Linked DNA regions of Homo sapiens. The protein of the gene in region 3 purifies or fractionates together with the protein of the main gene of each other region. This does not show direct contact. Each region holds a gene or a part of one and is shown on either strand. Other genes may lie near its edges.

Region 1 (4,408 bases), on a different chromosome or scaffold from region 3:
GCATCCTTTTTGGGGATCAGGTTCTAAAGTCAGCACAGCACATTAGACAGAAATCATGTGTAAACAACAGTGGCTTTGAAAACTCTGCAGATTACCATAGTGTAAGGTGGATGTGGTTTTGCATATACACTTCTTTTACGATGTTTGCATACATGTGTTACATGTATACTCATATATAAGAATGGGTATACATAGAAGATAAAATAATTGTAATTTTAAAGTTACATTCATGCAAAAGACTGAAATAATAATAATAATAATAAAAAGAACACCAAAGTGAGATTAAGCAAGATTGCTTTGAGCACCACCCAAAATGAGACTTGAGTTTAGGAGCCAGCTGTGTGGAAAGTCCAAATCTCTCAGCACTAGAATCTCACCCAGTTCTGAGTTGCTCATGCTGTCAGAGGATAATCTTTCTGTCCCTCTCTTTATTGATTGTGCAAGGACCCATGGTTTAATTTTCCCAAGTTAAATGCATGTTTGATGTTGCCTCTGTGTAGTTACCATCAGATCAAGGAGGAAGGGTATGAACCTCTTTCCAGCCCATACTCTTGAGAGCAGCTGCTGAGCAGACAGAAGTAGTTTAAGCTGGAACATGTATCAATTAGTACCATCTGCAGGTTGTGCAGGTTGAAATCTCACTATCTGTGCCTTTTGGCAGGGCAGGGTCCTACAGAGATGCCAGCACTGAGCCCAGCACCGTTAGTTCCATTAGTTCACTATGAGTTCTTCTCTGCCACCAACCACCATCCCTCAGCTCATTCCTGTTTCCATATGTGTTCTGGTTGCACTCTTTCTGCTTGGGACTTGCAAGTAGGGCAGAAGCAGGTGTTGGCTTGAGCTGGGTAATGAGTAGGTAGAGTGAACCCAAGCCTCGTGTGAGAATCACAGCCAGGTCAGCTGGTAGCCTCTGGCAAGTGATTTATCATGTCCCGAGTTAATGATCTTGATTTTGCATTAGACAGGGTCAGTGTTACCTGGCTCTTAGGGGTGTTTTTGTGGGTGAAGGATGAAGGTGATCTAGGTTGTCTTCATCGGTAAACTCTTGAATGTAGGAACTGGGTCTTCACTTTTTTTCAAAGCCTGTGAGTACTGAGTACACAGCCATGCTTCTATTCATGCATTCAGTTATGTATTGAATGTTTGCTGTATGTCACATGCTGCGCATGTAAGGATGAAGAATACAGATATGATCCTCTGTCATCAAGAAGACAGGCTGGACATGGTGCTCACACCTGTGATCTCAGCACTTTGGGAGGCCGAGGCGGGAAGATTGCTCAATACCAGGAGTTTAAGACCAGCCTGAGACCTTGCCTCTAAAAAAAAAAAAGGAAGACAGATAATTCAACAGGCTTTGGAAATACCTGTGAAAGGTACTGTGGCATTTTAGGGTACTGAAAAAGCATAAAGGACCCAAGGAACATCCCAGAAGAACTGGCATTTAACCCATAACTTGACACATAAGCAGGAATTGCCTGGCCGAGGGAGAGTTGAGGTTTGAAGGGATAGGAAGAGGAAATAGCATGTACAAAGGTGTAGAGGTAGGAGGGCTTGGTGCTTTGAAAGAAAGTATAAGAGTTGCAGTAGAACTGGATCAAAGCGTGTGAGGGGTGGAATTGTGAGAGATAAGACCTAAAGAATTAGAAAATAAAGGGATTTATACCTCATATTAAGTTTGGATGTTATCCAGGGGATGATAAGGAGCCATTGAAAGATTTTAAGCAAGGGAGAGATGTAATTGTCTTTGCATTTTAGCTGGATCTCTTTGGGTATGGTGTGAAGAAGCCATAGGAGCAGGGAAAGCCTGGAGCCTGGCTTCTTGACCAGGGGATGTTGAAGTAGCCCAAGTAAGAGACGATGGCGGTTGGGACTGGGTAGCAGGACAGAGGGAGTGGGCAGATCCCACTAACTTTCAGAGGTAGTGCTCATAGGGCACTGATGAGTTAGATGTGGAGCCTCAGTGAGCAGGAGGCCTCGGGTTTCAGGCTTGGATGGAAGGTGGTGCCATTCCCTTTCACTAAGATAGAGAATGCTAGAGGAAGAAGAAGTTTAGGCAGGAGGTGTGGCTTTGATTTTGGCCGTGTGAATTAGAGATGCTCATTGGACATCTATGTGGAGATTCTCAGCAGATCTGGAAATAGGAATTGCTGGAGAGAGGTGGCCACTGTGTGCTTCCTTGGCCCTGACTACTGAGGCTTTGGAAGGATGCCATTGACTGAGGAAGTTTATAGCTCAGGTTGGTCCAATTTCTAGGTCTGTATAGACCTCAGGTCTTTCCTCTGTCTTTCATCTCTCTGGCCTCAGGCTTCTTCAGTCACTTAGCATCTCTCCCCTTTACAGCTGGAAATGCCTCCTCCCGGGCATTCCAAGCTGACCAGACAAACATAATGTCCAGGCCGTGGTCCACCTTAGGCCAAACCTGGTTTAGTAAGTGGGGCAAAAAAGCAGAGAGGCCTGCAGCTGGCAGTGGCGATAGGTCCCTGAGAGCCAGCACGTAGCCTCCTTAACCACTGCTGTGCTCTGTGTGGTACATAAGTGTGTGGCCCTGTCACCTTGCCCACTTGCAGGTAAGTAGGAGAGAGACAAAGGCTGGGAGGAATTTCTTGTTTGCCTCTCACACATTGAATTGAGGGCTGAGAGGAGGAATGTTTTTGGTGATGGTGGGTTATTTTCAGGGACGGATCAGGAAGAATTTCCTTAGAGCTATTTCCAAACTTGGCTGGTAATCAGAGTCAGTTAAAAAGATATATATGGCCGGGCGCGGTGGCTCACGCCTGCAATCCCAGCACTTTGGGAGGCCGAGGTGGGCGGATCACGAGGTCAGGAGATCGAGACCATCCCGGCAAACAGGGTGAAACCCCGTCTCTACTAAAAATACAAAAAAATTAGTTGGGCATGGTGGCGGGTGCCTGTAGTCCCAGCTGCTTGGGAGGCTGAGGCAGGAGAATGGCGGGAACCCGGGAGGCAGAGCTTGCAGTAAGCCGAGATCACGCCACTGCACTCCAGCCTGGGCGACAGACCGAGACTCCATCTCAAAAAAAAAAAAAAAAAAAAAAAAAAAATATATATATATATATATATATATATATATATGTATAGGCTGGGTGCAGTGGCTCACACCTGTAATCTTAGCACTTTGGGAGGTTGAGGCAGGAGGATTTCTTGAAGCCAGGAGTTCGAGACCAGCCTGGGCAACAAAGTGAGACCCCATCTCTAAAAAAAAAAATTAGCCGGGCATGTTGGCACACACCTGTGGTCCCAGCTACACTGGAGGCTGAGGCAAAAGGATCGCTTGAACCCAAGAGGTTGAGGCTGCAGTGAGCCATCCTCACACCACTGCCCTCCAGACTGGGCAACAGAGCAAGACCCTGTCTCAAAAATACATACATACATATAGATATGTGTGTATGTATACACACACACACATATATGTATAGTGAAAATGTAAAATACAGAAAAACATACATGGACCTAAGTCTTTTTTAAAAAAAAATTATCTTTAATTAATTATTTGAGAAATGGGGTCTTGCTGTGTTGCCCAGGCTGGAGTGCAGTGGCTATTCAGAGGCTCACTCATTGTGCGCATGGTGCTTATGGTGCCTGGAATAGCTGGCACTACAGGCATGTGTTCTGTGCCAGCTCAAGTCTTCAATTTTGCTTCAGATCTTTAACTTTTTAATTGTGAAATATAACTGTATGCAGAAAACTGCATAAAACACAAAGGTACTGAATAACAAATAATTATAAAGTGACATCTGGGTCAATAACTAGACCACAGTCAGACCCCTGAAGCTCCCTCTGTGTCTTGTCTAGTCACATCCCCCTCCCCTTGCTCAAGAGGTTTTCAGTAATCACATCCTTTTTTTCTCTATGGTTTTACCTCCTAGTTTTGGAATCCATAAGCAGTATATTTCAGCTTTGCATGTTTTTGAACTCTGTTCAAATGGAATTTGTACAAAATAATATGCTGTGCATATTATTTCTTGCTTCTTTTACTTTATATCATTATGTAAGATTCATCCATGTTATTGCAGCTTATTTCTTTTTTGCTTGTTTATTTGTTTGTTTTTGTTTTTTTGAGACAGTCTCACTCTGTCACCTAGGCTAGAGTGCAGTGGCGCGATCTCGGCTCACTACACCTCCACCTCCTGGGTTCAAACGATTCTCCTGCCTCCGCCTCCCAGGTAGCTGGGACCATAGGTGCACGCCACCAGGCCTGGCTAATTTTTGTATTTTTTAGTAGAGACAGGGTTTTGCCATGTTGGTCAGGCTGGCCTCAAACTCCTGACTTCAGGTGAGCCACCCGCCTCATACTGCAGCTTATTTCTTCATTGCTGAATAATATTCCATTATATGAGTATACCCCCAGTTGTTTACCCATTTTATTGTCATCTCAAGTTTTTGCCCA
Region 2 (4,408 bases), on a different chromosome or scaffold from region 3:
GGAAAGCTCAGGGTCCTCACAGAGGAAGAGCTCGCCCCATGCCATGCCACGGCGTGGGGTGCCGCCCCGTGTGCTCGTGCAGGTGTTCCGGGGATTTGTTTTCCATCCATTTCCTGAAGCGTCGGCAGTCTTTGCTGTGGCTTTCGCGGTGGCAGGCGCGTCCTGAGGCTGGTCATGTCAGCCTGGCTGGGTCTCTCAGGCTTCACTGGGCTGCGTCTCAGGCTATGTCTCCTTGCAGTTGGTCAGCATCGGCTCCTCTTACAACTATGGGAACGAAGACCAAGCCGAGTTCCTCTGTGTGGTGTCCAAGGAGCTGCACAACACCCCGTACGGTACGGCCAGCGAGCCCAGCGAGAAGGCCAAGGTGAGTGCTGGGCCGGCCCTGGCCTGGGGCAGTCTTGGGTGGGGAAGGCTCTTGCCCTCTCAGACCTTCCTCCTTTTCTGCCATTCTCATCAAGCTCCCGGTGTCCGCCCCTGGTGGCCTTGCTGACTTCTTGGACACACGGTCTCCCGTGGGACAGGTTCTCTCGACACAGGCTCCCAGTAAGCCCCTGCGGCCTCCCAGCCTGCATGCAGAGCTGCTCCTGGAAGGGGCCCCAGGCCTGCTGCAGGGGCCATGCTCTTAGGAATGCCACTGAGGGCTGTGTCTCAGGGGACCCAGGGTCCTCTGTTCCCCGGGCCCAGCCTCTGCTGTGTGAGTGAGGACTTGGGATGCTGAGGCCTGGCTGTCATAGGGGTCTGGGCCATCCCTGAGTGCAGGGACATGGGGGTCCAGTTGTCGTGGTGGGGGTCTGGGCCATCCCTGAGTGCAGGGGTGGGTACCCTGGCTCAGCCACTACGTGGGCCTCATCTTTGTCGAGAGGAGGGTGTCCTGCAGGCCCTGGGATTCTCAGGCTGCACAGAGTAGGCCCTTTGCGGCACCCAGCCTGGCAGCACCGGCGCAGACTCTGCGGGGGCTCAGGCCCTTCTGTTTTCTGCGGGGCAGGCAGCTGGGGTGAAATGCAGGGACCCCTGCCTCGTTTGCTTTCAGGTTGGCCCTGTGGCCCTGCCCACAGGTGACCCATTCTGGTGGCATTTCCTCTAAGCACGTTCTTAAGGTTGAGGCTCCAAGATGGACAAATGCGTCCATCCAAGCAGAATCTGACCTTGGCCTGGGCCAGCTGCACCTGGCAGGACTCCCGGACCTCAGAGCCAGGTGGTGGCTGGAGAGCTCTTGGCTGGGGTCTGCGTGGGTCTGGGAGAGCCTGGGTGGTGGGGCGGGCTCTGTGGGGAGCCAGCCTGGGGCGAAGGCTCGGGGCATTGGCAAAGGGTGTTGAGTGGGTGCCATGAGAGGCCAGAACCGGAAGGCTTTTAACTGGTGGCATTAAACCAGGGACACCTGGGCAACCGCAGACTCTTGGCTGGGGGCCTCTGGCCGGCCACCAGCAGCCCAGGACTGTCCCCGTGAGCCTCTCCGAGTAGGCCTTTGGAGGTATGCCCTTGGGAACAGAGGGGTGGGGCCGCCAAGCATGTCTCTCGGAGGCCTGCGGCCAGCTCACGGCAGCCTTTCCACCTCAGGCGACTGTCCTGGCCCAGAGCCTCCCTCGCTGGCCACCCGTTGTGCTCTTGCTGTGGGCAGAGGCCAGTCCTGCTCCACTGCCGTTCCTCGAGGCCGAGGCAGTGTAGGCTGGGGCAGGCCCTGGTGTGGGACAGCCGGGGTGGAAGCTGGGGTTCCACCGCCAGGCTCGGAGATGCTCTTCCATTTGAGTCTCGGATCTAGGAGGCGACCCCTGGCTCCCTGAGAGCCCCAGCTCAGTCACAAGGAGGCACTTCTCTTCCTCTTGGAGCAATCGTAGGGCTCTTTTCTAAATGGTTTTATTTTTAGAAGTTTTTTATTTCTGAGCTGAGTTTTTATAACCAAGCTCCCCTGGGCTCCTATCCCTCAGGTGGCTTGGCAGCTGCAGAAAGGACACGCTCTGTACTGTGAGGAAGCTCCAGGCATGACCCCAAATCCCTTTGTGGTTGAGAATGTGGCCCTATTTCATTTTCCAAAAATACCTGCTCTGAAGTGGGGCAGCTATGGCGGCTTCTTGATGGGGGTGGTGTCAGCAGTGCCCCAGGAGGCAGAGCTCAGGCCAGAGCCTCAGGAGGCCGTGGGGGATTGCGGGGGCCAGAGCTGGAGGACCGTGATGGGGGCACCCCTGGCTGGGCTGCGCAGGGCCGCATGGGCTGTGGGCCCTCGTCGCTGGTGTCCCTGCAGCATGTGTGGCCTGGCCCTGCTGGGCAGCTGTCCCCCACTTCAGTCAGCGGCGGCGGGAGAGCCTGGGTGGTGGGGCGGGAGGGGTTGCACCTGTAGCAAGTGAAGGCGGTCCACACATGAGCACACCTGCTTCCCACGCCAGTCCCTCAAGAACTTGCTAGAAGGACTCGCAGAGCTCACTGAGAGCGCTTAGACTCAAGGCCGCCATTTATTCCCAAGGAACAGAGAGAGACAGGCTCAGATCAGCAAGGGCGGGCACCTGGGCAGAGGCCGGGGTCTCCCAGTGCCTGGGCGGCTGAGGAGGGGGTTCCTTGGTGGTGTTGGGGCTCCATTGCGTAGCCATGCTCGATGGGTGCATCCACCGCCTGCCCCCGTGGCTGATCCCTCCTGTGACCCAGGGCCCCACCCTCCCTCCTGCAGCAGTGGGGCCAATGCAGTGGGGTCCACAGAGCCCACGCAGCAGAGGCCCTCCTATCAGGCCGAGATCTGTGGGCTAGCGCCGCCTGCCAGGAGTGGGGCCAGAGGCCAGGCGCCTCTGGACAGGGTTCAGCCCCTCAGCACATGGTGGGACAGGACCAGCCCCGGATCGCAAGATGCAGCCGCCTCACACGTGGAGGTTTCCACCTCTGAGATGTGGCAGAGCCCCTGAGCCTGTGTGTCCCCTCGTGGCGTGGCCTCACTGGAAGGTCACCGGGCGTGGGGGTTTGGGCCCGGGGCACCCGCCCACCCGCACTGTCCTGACAGCCTGTCTTCTCCCCCACTGCGCGCTGCACGCCGCCAGAGTGACGACGAGGACCAGGGGCACCCAGGGAGTGGCTCAGATTAAGTGTGAATGTCATGGTGAGCTCCGTGGCCTCCTTGACCCCATGGCCCCAGCTGACCCTTGCCACAGACCCTCCCTGTGTGTCTGTCCCTGCCTGTAGTTGACGAGAGCCGTCCGCACTCCATGCCAGCTGTAGATCCTCAGTAGCACTGTCTTGGTGGTGGGGCTGTTGCTGTGAGGCAGATGCCCAGGGGCAGTGTTGGGGCGTTTGTTGGGATGACTGGAGGGTGCCCGTGCCAGGCCAGGCTGTGGACATCAGTGGTCGTGAACCCAAGAGCCCCTCCTGGGGGCTGGGCAGGGAGTGCCACTCGTGCCGCCAGCCCTAGTGGGTGACCTTCCTGTCTGGCTTAGGCCACAGGCTCAGGGCCAAGGGGTCAGGACCAGTGCGGCAGACAGCAGACCCCTATCTCAGCTGCCAAATCCTGCGGCATCCCTGATGCGCTTAAGCCTCCCAGGCCAGCCGTGTCCTGCAAGCCCCTCAGCCACCCGGGCCTGCCTGCCTGTGGGGGTGTCTGGCCATGGGGTACAGCCTCAAGGGCCCCCTGGTTGGTGTCTGCAGTTGGACCTTCCTGTGGAAGATGGCCTAGGGAGACAGTGTGTCCAGAAAAGATGGGTCTCACCCCAGGCTCTGTCTAGAGTAGCCCGTGCTGCTCCCGGCCTTGGGAGGGCGAAGGACAGCACTTTGGCTGCAGGTCTCCAGGGTGTCTCCTGCCCTCATCAGGAGGGAGCTGTTGGGGCTCCCGGATGCTCAGATGCCACACTGCTCCTGGCCTGTCCGCTGCGCTACTTAGTTTTACACAGGGCTGGTGGGGGCTTGGGGGCTGCACTGTCTCCCCAAGTCAACTCCAGACATCCCAGTAAACTTGGGAATCACCCTGGCCCAGGGAGGGACGTGCTGCCCCTCGCACAGGGGGATGGGCTCCTCCGAGGCACTGGAGAGTGAGTGGGAGCCTCGAGCTAGAAGTGGTCCAGGGCACTGAGCCTGGGGGGCACCCGCCTGGGAACGGCAGAGCTGTTGGGGGGTGGAGTATTGGAGTCAGGCTGAGCAGCTCAGGGGACGTGGCCTCCAGGAGCCTTCGGAACAAGCCTGGGGTGGCATGCACCTCTCACCACTGCCCTCTCTCCGGTCAGTGCGGCATGGCAGTGACCTCTGGGAGGCTGTGCCCGGCGAGGGCGTGGGCGTTGCTGCCCTACCTGGTGTTGGGCAGCCCTCACGTGACACATGGAGACAGCTGTTGTGGGCCACGCACAGTGAGGCTGGCTGGCTCCGAAGCTCTCTGCTCGGGAGCGTGGGGTGATTTCCCCTCCACCTGGTCTCTGGAGCTGCCATGGCTCATTTTGGGAGT
Region 3 (5,316 bases):
GATTAAGTGACACTGAAAAGCCAAGCCTCCCACTATAGTGTCTCTGTAGTATAATACGCTGAGGTGGTCACAGTTAACCAGAAGGATGGGGTTTGAGCCCACTGGGAGAACATTTGGTAATATTCTTTGTGTGTGTGTTTTTTTTCTCTCTAAAGAAGGGATGGGGAAGTAGGGAGAATTGGAAAATCAAACCTCATCCTCTGCTCTGCCTGCCAGTCAGAGGTAATACCGACCAAGGATGGAGAGGGCTGGAGAAGCCAGGCCTGGCTACAGCCACTGCTTTGAGATCCCCTAGTTACGATGAACTTGCACATTTGCTGGCTCATGAATTCTCTGGTACAATCTTCTTTTTGTTTTCTTTTCTAGTGTTTCTGAAAGATCTATCCAGCACTCCGATGGCCAGCAACAACACCGCCAGCATAGCACAAGCCAGGAAGCTGGTAGAGCAGCTTAAGATGGAAGCCAATATCGACAGGATAAAGGTGAGGATGGTCTAACCCCACACTTCATCTAGCGTGAGTCTAAGGCGCATGTCATGTGACCACTCTTTCCTAGAGAGGGATAAAACCAGTAATGACAGGAGAGCATCTTAAAGATTAGGCAGAAGTTCATTTCTAACGTGTCTTTCCCTTCTCCAGCATAAAATAATAGAATGAATTAGATCCTCTTTCCCATGTAGAATTAAAACCTAACAACACAACACAAAAAAAAAAGCAAAACAGGCTCATGGTTAAATTCCAGTGAGAGAAATTAGAGAACACATAAAATATATCAGCGCACTAGTTCCCCTCCCTGTCCTCATGGAAACGTTTTTCTTATTTGGTTTTTAATTTTTTCTGTCCTGGTTCAGGTTCTAAGGCTAAATGTCCGTATTTTGGGTCTAACACTTCTAGTTATCCTTGCACGTTATAAGTTTTTTCTTCTTTATACTTTATTGAATTTTTTTCCTGCAAACACAAAAGTCACACCTTGCCTCCCTAAGAAGTCAAACAACAAAGAGGTTTAATGAAAGTTCATAGTCTATGTGTTTCTTTTTTTCCTCTCCCTCCCCAGACCTAACCTGACAGCTTTGCTGTAAGCTGGGGCTAATTCATCTGGAACCAAGACTTTAAATTCAAACCCTTCGTTGGTAGTTTTCAGATGAAAACCTTGGCCAATATGCTGTCGTTATTAATAGATAGCTATGGCACGGTGGCAAAGTAAATTTCTGTTAACCATCAAAACTTTACTGCCCCAGAAGTAAAATGCCTTACCCAAGAATTCTATGAAATGCAGCTCAGACACATATCTCATTGTACTAAGCTAAAACTACAACCTTCTTCCAAATGCCCTTTTAAAACTAGAATATTTTTCCTATTTTCTCCATACCTAATTCAGCACCTGGGCAATCCAGCTGTCCTTTGGAGTCTGACAGGGTCAATAAAATTTGGCTCATGGGCCAAAGCCAGCCCACTGCCTATGTTTATAAAGAAAGTTTTATTAGAACACACTCATTTACATATTGTCTATGGCTGCTTTCACTCTAAAACAGCAGAGTAGGGTGGTTGTAACAGAGACCATATGGCCCACAAAGCTAAAATATTTATTCTCTGGTGTTTCACAGGAAGTTCACTGACCCCTGGTCTACAGCGATGGTTCTCAGCTCATCTGTGCGTTCCCAACACCCAGAGAGCTCTATAAAAGGACCAATTACCGAACCACACCCAAACCAATTAAATTAGAATCTCCTGGGGTATGATTCAGGCATCAGTATTTTTTAAAAAGAATTTTTCAGTTCATTCCGATGTATAGCCAAGGTTGAGAACCACTGTCCTATGGGAAGGAGTTTACTTCTGCTAAGTCTCATCAGGTATGTGCTAGAGAGTGAAGAGAGAGCTCTTCTTTCTCTACAAGTAAGATGAGCAAATACCCATGGACATTTTCCCATTATCCTAAATCTCCTTTGTAAAATTTGATGCCTAGTAATGGACCACAGGATTTAATCAGCTCCTGCTCTTCTTTCAACAGCCTTAATTCTTCTTCTTTCTTCATGACTGAGATCACTAAAGCGACCTTACCGTGCTCCTTTGCCATCTTCCTCTTCTCCTCTTTTCTTGCTTCTTCTTTTTCACTCTCTTGCTGAAAAAGCACAAAGCAACAGGTGGGCACAATACCTGCTGAGAGAAGTAAGGTGGCCCATGGATTGTCAAATCAGAAAGGGTCATTCAGTTCTTTTTGAGGGAGAGGAGGTTCTGCCCATGGGCCTTCTGGAAAATACCACTTTGACTTTTGAGGTGGTCCAACTATGATAAAAGTCTGTGAAGCTTTACTGTGGTTGATGTTTTCTGTTAATATTCAGCATCCCCAGTTACTGTTCCTGAAGGAGGATATGATGTGCTCATGGGTGATGAAAACTGACAGCAGAAGAAAGATAATAGAAATAGAGCTTTTCAGAAATAGTTTAGACTTTTATCATCCCTCACCTGAATTACTGACTGCAAGGGGCTCCTATTTGCTGTCTGCAATTCCATCTCAATACATCTCCATCCCGCCATCAATTACCTTCCATATTCCTTCCAAATATAATGTTCTAAAAGAAAATCTAATTACATTCCTCTTTATTGAAAATCAGCTCATGATTCCCCATCACCAGTAAAATAAAATTCAGGCCCTTTAGCAGTGTATACAAAGTTCCTGTGACCCCTGTCATCTCTTCAGCTTCATTCCTGCTCTCTTTTCTGCATGCCATATAGAACAACTTTTAATTCTTTTGATGGGAATTTCAAATGCCTAGAACATCCAGTCTCCTTTGCCCCTCTACCTTGCTGCTTTACTTACCTTACTTTACTTAACACTTGACTGCATTGACTCATTAAAGATTCAGATCAAATTATTAGGTCCTTTAAAAAGTTTTCCTAGACCCGCATCATAAGGTTGGATTTTTGCTGTTTGTTCAGTTGTTCATTCATTTACTTATATAATAAATACTTTACTGAGAGCTTTCTAAATTGCAAGGGCTTGTTAGGTTCTAAAGAGATGGAGATAGACAAAAACATGATTCTTGCTCTCAAAAATCCCTGACCTAGTTGAAGACTACAAAAAAATTGAACAAGGCCTATTATTGACGCAAACAAGATATCCAAGAAGCATAGTTACCAAATGTGATCAGAAAGAAGCCAATACCACACTCTGATTGCCCTTTGAAGAGACACAAATAAATCAATACTAAAAAAGAAGCAAAGCATGAACCTGATAAACTGGGTGTGAGTAGTTGCCTTCCTAGGTGATCTTCACATTCAAATCTCTGAATCCCACTTGATGTCATTGGACCTTACATTGTTAGAAATACAGCAGCATCCTGTATTTCAGCATTTGTTCTGTACCTCAGAGCCAGGCAGGCTTGCTGTGGTGAAGTGACAGATTATTTTTAGTTGAGCAGTTGGATAAAGTGTTGACTGTGTTGACACGGTTGTCAGCTAGCTGGTTTAGGGCTTGGTTATCTGCCTTTAGAAGTCTTTTCAAGGCTTTTGAGCATTCAGGCTTCCCCACCTACTTTCCATACATGATCCTTCAGCAGGAAGGGGCTTCTCTCTGAAGATCCCAGGCTTGTGATTTTCCAGTGAGAGTAGTGACCTCTTCAAGCTATAAAGGATAGAAATGGCTTTATATACGTCTGGCAGAACCTACTGCAACTGAGGTGGCAAAGAATAGGACTCTTAAGAGGAGGATTTGGGGACACAGCTGGAATTGAAGTTGTTGAGGGTCCCTTAAGCAGGCGGTGGCCTTATCCCTCATGTGACCCCCAGAATAAATTATGCTGCATAGAGTAGCCCTACTCTATGAATAACATAGTTACATGAATAGCATGTTTGTTTTTTAAGCCTTCTTGTTTTCTATCCCTTTACATCACAGACCCTGGGAGATTTGGGCTAAGTGAACCAATTATCTGTTCATAAGCCTCGGGCATATATAAATTATACTCTCAGCCTCTTTGTATTTCTTTGTTAGGATTTCATTCAAGGACAGAGGGTAAAGAGAAATAAAAGGAAATTGGGAAGAGAGTTAGGGGAAGGGGGAGAGAGGGGCTGTGGACTGTGACACCTGGATGAATGAAACAGCAATAGACTCACACTAACACTGACCAAAGACAAAATGAAAGAAACCTTGTCCTTAGAGCACAAGAGGAGGGAACATGCACAAAAGTAAAGGACAGCAGGGCTTCAGTAAATCTGTTTATTCATCATTGTATTAGGACTCTTTGAGTTTCTAATAATAGGAATCTCAACCAAGCTAGCTGAAGCAGAAAGAGGTACTGATTATAAAAGATACAGGATGTCTCAATCCAAGAGCAGAAATGTGGCTAGATAGGCAGTGGAAGTGAGAACTGGAAGGCCATTGAGAACTGCGAGTGCTCCGTCACCTGTCTCTGCTCCTCTCTCTGTGTCTGCCTCTTCCTTTTCCTGGGAAGAAGGGATTTTTAGCTGCCAGGTCCATATAGCAGGCACAAGATGGCTGCCCATGGTTCCCAGGATCACAACTCATAGTTCCAGCTCCATGAAAAAAGAGATGGCTTGATTCAATCCTTTTCAGTCTCCATAGCACGTAGTCCTAGAGTGCCATCTCTGTTCCAGCAAGAATGAGCCCTCTCCAGCTTCAATCAACTGACATTCAAATTGAACTCCATTATACAGACATAGCCCCTAGGAATTAACCTGCCCATGTAGAGGAATGGGAATGGGAATGGGAATCATTGTAAGCTGGAAAGATGCTCTTTGGCAGGAGATGCTATTAATATTATGAAAAATAATGTAAATTTAAGAGTAAAAGATATAAGATGCAAGGCAAGAGCATGGGTAAAATGATTGCTTCTTAACTAATTGGCTGCTCCATAAATTGACCCCACAGAAAAATGTCTCATTTCTCCCATATACTCCCAACAGACCTTTCCAAGTGATTCCTTTTATCGTTCTAAAAGTGTGCTATGCAAAGTGTCACCTCTCTGGTTATTCTGGGTTTCTGACTGAGAATACCCTTCCCTCTTATTTCTTTGCCTCTCCCAATCTTATTCCTCCTTTAGGGGTCAGCTCAAGTTCCTACTTGTTCATGAATCTCTTTTTCTATTCTGACCATATTTACTAATCAATTTACTAATTAGTTTCATCTTCATCAAATAAATTTTTCCACCTAGACTACATAGTCCTTTTCAAAGACCATGTTGTCTACTTGTTTGCATCTTTCATGGTACTGGGGTACACAAGCATTTTGTAAAAGCTTTTTTCAGTAGACAGCTTTAAATTTGTGTATTAAGAGTGTCATATAACAAAACATTACTATATT
Region 4 (4,408 bases), on a different chromosome or scaffold from region 3:
TTTGTATTTTTACTAGAGACAGGGTTTCACCATGTTGGTCAGGCTGGTCTCAAACTCCTGACCTTGTGATGTGCCTGCCTTGGCCTCCCAAAGTGTGGGATTACAGACGAGAGCCACCGCCCTGGCCTAATTTTTTATTTTTTTGTAGAGACAGGGTCTCGCTATGCTCTCCAGGCTGGTCTTGAACTCCTGGGCTCAAGCAATCCTCCTGTCTTGGCCTCCCAAAATGTTGGGATTACAGGCATGAGCCACTGTGCCCGGCCTTGTTTTGTTTTGTTTGAGACAAGGTCTTGTGCTGACATCCAGGCTAGAGTGCAATGGCACCATCTCGGCACACTGCAACTTCTGCCTCCTGGGCTCAGGTGATCCTCCCACCTCAGCTATAGCTGAGACTACAGTTAGGCGCCACCACGCCCAGCTAATTTTTTCTCTTTTTAGTAGAGACGAGATTTTGCCATGTTACCCAGACTGGTCTTAAACTCCTGATCTCAAGCAATCCACCCACCACAGCCTCCCAAAGTGCTGGGATTACAAGTGTGAGCCAGTGCTCCTGGCCTGTTTTTTTGTTTATTATTATTATTATTATTTATTTTGTGTGTGTGTGTGTGTGTGTGTGTGTGTGTGATGGGGTCTTGTTCTGTCACCCAGGTTGGCCTTGAACCGCAGGCCTCAAGTGATCTTCCCACCATGCTGGAATTACGAGTGAGAGTCACGTTGCGCAGCCACATTATTTGCCTTAATCTTTGTGTAAGTATTAGAAGGGCTTCCACTTAAGATAAGTGACTTTTGAGAAGCCGTTACAAACTTTGGAGTATACCTTCTTTTCACAGAACTTATGAAGTTACTGGAATACATCACACAGATTCTGAGTAATGAGAGGCTAGAGATAGAGTTCCCAGAAGGGCTTCAAGAGCTTGGCCCTTGGCTGGGCACAGTGGCTCATATCTATAATCTCAGCTACTCAGGAGGCCAAGGTGGGAGGACTAGTTGAGGCCAGGAGTTCAAGACCAGCCTGGGCAACATGGTGAGACCCCATCTCTACCAAAAAAAGAGGCTGACCCTGCTGAAAACACCTTTCCACTCGAGCATGGTCCACTCCAGGCTCCTAAACACCACCCTGCACCCTGGGGGCCTTCTGAAAAGGAACCCCCAGTTGAGAAGATCACTTTGAGCAAAGAGATGCTTCGTTCTAGTTCTCCCTTTTTTTTTTTTTTTGAGACAGAGTCTTGCACTGTCGCACGGGCTGGAGTGCAGTGGCGTAATCTCGGCTCACTGCAACTTCCGCCTCCCGGGCTCAAGTGATTCTCCTGCCTCAGCCTCCTGAGTAGCTGGGACTACAGGCACCCGCCACCACACCCAGCCAGTTTTTGTATTTTTAGTAGAGATGGGGTTTCACCATGTTGGCCAGGCTGGTCTCGAACTCCTGATCTCGTGATCCACCCACCTCGGCCTCCCAAAGTGTTGGGATTACAGGCGTGAGCCACCACGCCCAGCCCGTTCCCAGTTCTCTTTAACCAGCTGTGTGTGCTAAGAAAGTCACAGCCTATGCTATCCCACCCTGTCGGAATTCTGAAGCCGGCTCTTAACTTTCTAAAACCACCAGCTTGAAAGCTATGCTTCAGGCAGGTGCTCCAGGGAGGAATCTCTGGTGAGGAGCAGGCATTTTCCAGAGGGAGAGCTGGGACCTAAATGGAAGGTGCTGCAGCTTTAAAACTGCACATTTCTGGATCCGAATGGGCCAGAAGTCAAGTGGGGGTGGTTGGTGTTTCTCCAAGAACAGCAACCCCTGGGCTCAGGCAAACATAAAAGGAGTGGGTAAGACGTGCCCTGTGGGATTCTGGACAACAGGTGGCTGCCCTGGCCCAAGGATACCGTCCTGCGCACAGAAGTGCAAGGTTTGCTTACGCACATCAGACTAACCTTTCCACCTGGGATGGTAGAAGTTCCCAGTGTGCCCCAGGGGTCTGCTTCAGCAGGTTTTGGTTGAGTGACCAGACCACTCCGGTTTCTCTTGCAGCTAGAACATTCACCTACCTATTATAAGGCAAATACTGCTTTAAAACAGTTCTTGAAAAGTAAAAATCATAGTGTAAAACGTACGTCTGCGAGACACTGTCTTGGGAAAACACCTCGACACGTGTTTTTGTGTGTGTGGTAAAATACACATAGCATAAAATTTACCATGTTAGGCCGGACGCGGTGGCTCACGCCTGTAATCCCAGCACTTTGGGAGGCCGAGGCGGGTGGATCACGAGGTCAGGAGATCGAGACCATCCTGGCTAACACAGTGAAACCCTGTCTCTACTAAAAATACAAAAAAACTAGCCGGGCGTGGTTGCGGGAGCCTGTAGTACCAGCTACTCGGGAGGCTGAGGCAGGAGAATGACGTGAACCTGGGAGGCGGAGATTGCAGTGAGCCGAGATTGTGCCACTGCACTCCAGCCCAGGCGACAGAGCAAGACTCTGTCTCAAACAAACAAACAAACAAACAAAAAATTTACCATTTTAGCCATTTTTTATTTATTTATTTTTTTGAGACAGAGTGCCGCACTGTCGTCCAGGCTGGAGTGCAGTGGCGTAATCTCAGCTCACTGCAACCTCCGCCTCCCTGGGTTCAAGCGATTCCCCTGCCTCAGCCTCCCAAGTAGCTGGGATTACAGGCATGTGCCACCACGCCCGGCTAATTTTGTATTTTTAGTAGAGACAGGGATTGTCCATGTTGGTCAGGCTGGTCTCGAACTCCCGACCTCAGGTGATCCGCCCGCCTCAGCCTCCCAAAGTGCTGAGATTAGAAGCGTGAGCCACCGAAGTTGATTTTAATGTATCCCACTGGAAAAACCTTGCCCACAGCAGGACTAGGCCTCAGAAGAAAAGAAACCCTTAAGACCATTGATTGGTTTGCTTCGTCCTGGGAGGGAAGGCAGTGAGGGCTCCCCCTTTCCCTGGTCCTGAAGGTCAGGCCGACAGGTCCACTCACATGCGCACAGCCACGCCTGGGTCACACTGCACAATCTTACACGTGTCGGTCGGTTATCCACAGCTTACATCCCTCCTTCCCTGCTATGGGCCCACTAGCCTCTGGAGGAACTCCAGGCCCATCCTGTTTGGGTGAAAGAACTGGCTCCTTCTTAAGGCAATAAACATGTTTCTAAACAGAACAGGAGCTGGGCAGAGCAGCACCAGCCTCCACTCGGCTGGCCCCAGATTCAGGTTGAATATTAAACTGGAAACAGTAAAAGCTGTGGGTGCACCTTGCGAAGTTCCCTTAGGGAGATGCAGATCCCAAGTTGTGTTTACTGCCGCGAATGGTCCGGCGACGTGCTGGACTCACAGGGACCCCCGAGCCAAGGATGTGTGCAAAAGACCCGAGGGAGCCCTTGGATTCTTTCTTGTTCCCCAAACCCTCACTCAAAAAGAGCGCACGACATTTCTGGGGCTGTGCACACAAGGCAACAACCCACTTAAGGCATCTATAAAAACCAGGTCCAGGCCAGCAAAGGGGCTCACATCTGTAATCCCAGCACTTTGGGAGGCTCAGGCAGGAGGATCACTTCAGCCCAGGAGTTCAAGACCAGCCTGGGCAACATAATGAGACCTCATCTCTACCAAAAATAAAAAAAAATGGCCAGGCCTGGTGGCATGCACCTGTAATCCCAGCTATTTGGGAGGCTGAACGGGGACGACCTTTGGACGCCAAGCCCAGGAGTTCAAGACTAGCCCACACAACATGGCAAAACCCCATCTCTACAAAAAAATACCAAAATTAGCCAGGCGGGCCAAGCACGGTGGCTCATGCCTGTAATCCCAGCACTTTGGGAGGCCGAGGCAGGTGGATCACAGGGTTAGGAGTTTGAGACCAGCCTGGCCAGCAGGTAAAACCCCGTCTCTACTAAAAATACAAAAAATTAGCTGGGTGTGGTGGCACATGCCTGTAGTCCCAGCTACGTGGGAGGCTGAGGCAGGAGAATCGCTTGAACCCGGCAGGCAGAGGTTGCAGTGAGCCAAGATGGAGCCACTGCACTCTAGACTGGACGACAGAGTGAGACTCCATCTCAAAAAAAAAAAAAAAAATTAGCCAGGCGTGGTGGCGCATACCTGTAGTCCCAGCTACTCAGGAGGTTAAGGTGGGAGGATCACCAGAGCCCAGGAGGTCAAGGCTGCAGTGGGACCTGATTGTACCACTGAACTCCATCCAGCCTGGGTGACAGAGCAAGACCCTGTCTGAAAAAAAAAATAAAATGAAAACAAAAATAAAAAATAAATACATAAATAAAAACGAGGTCCAGATTGGTTTCCTTAGGTTAAAAAAAAAGTCTTTCATTACGCTGGTGATATTTGAATGCAAAAATCACAAAAAGTCAAATAGTACCAAAATTAGGGAGTAAAAATGTAGAGTTCTGTTTAAATT

What was found.
Region 1: the proteins of GNG2 (region 3) and SMO fractionate together in Homo sapiens (co-fractionation; one study listed by IntAct). This does not show direct contact.
Region 2: the proteins of GNG2 (region 3) and KCTD5 purify together in Homo sapiens (affinity purification with western blotting; 2 studies listed by BioGRID and IntAct, with this or other methods). This does not show direct contact.
Region 4: the proteins of GNG2 (region 3) and TBC1D24 purify together in Homo sapiens (affinity purification with mass spectrometry; one large-scale study listed by BioGRID and IntAct). This does not show direct contact.

The regions. Positions count from the first base shown.
Region 1 is NC_000007.14:129,190,725-129,195,132, forward strand, and holds part of SMO (protein smoothened precursor), read left to right. Parts: intron 1-4,408. UniProt on the Homo sapiens protein: G protein-coupled receptor which associates with the patched protein (PTCH) to transduce hedgehog protein signaling. Binding of sonic hedgehog (SHH) to its receptor patched prevents inhibition of smoothened (SMO) by patched.
Region 2 is NC_000016.10:2,702,115-2,706,522, forward strand, and holds part of KCTD5 (BTB/POZ domain-containing protein KCTD5), read left to right. Parts: intron 1-238; coding exon 239-364; intron 365-4,408. UniProt on the Homo sapiens protein: Its interaction with CUL3 suggests that it may act as a substrate adapter in some E3 ligase complex. Does not affect the function of Kv channel Kv2.1/KCNB1, Kv1.2/KCNA2, Kv4.2/KCND2 and Kv3.4/KCNC4.
Region 3 is NC_000014.9:51,950,284-51,955,599, forward strand, and holds part of GNG2 (guanine nucleotide-binding protein G(I)/G(S)/G(O) subunit gamma-2 precursor), read left to right. Parts: intron 1-366; coding exon of another isoform or gene 367-395; coding exon 396-482; intron 483-5,316. UniProt on the Homo sapiens protein: Guanine nucleotide-binding proteins (G proteins) are involved as a modulator or transducer in various transmembrane signaling systems.
Region 4 is NC_000016.10:2,491,219-2,495,626, reverse strand, and holds part of TBC1D24 (TBC1 domain family member 24), read right to left. Parts: intron 1-4,408. UniProt on the Homo sapiens protein: May act as a GTPase-activating protein for Rab family protein(s). Involved in neuronal projections development, probably through a negative modulation of ARF6 function. Involved in the regulation of synaptic vesicle trafficking.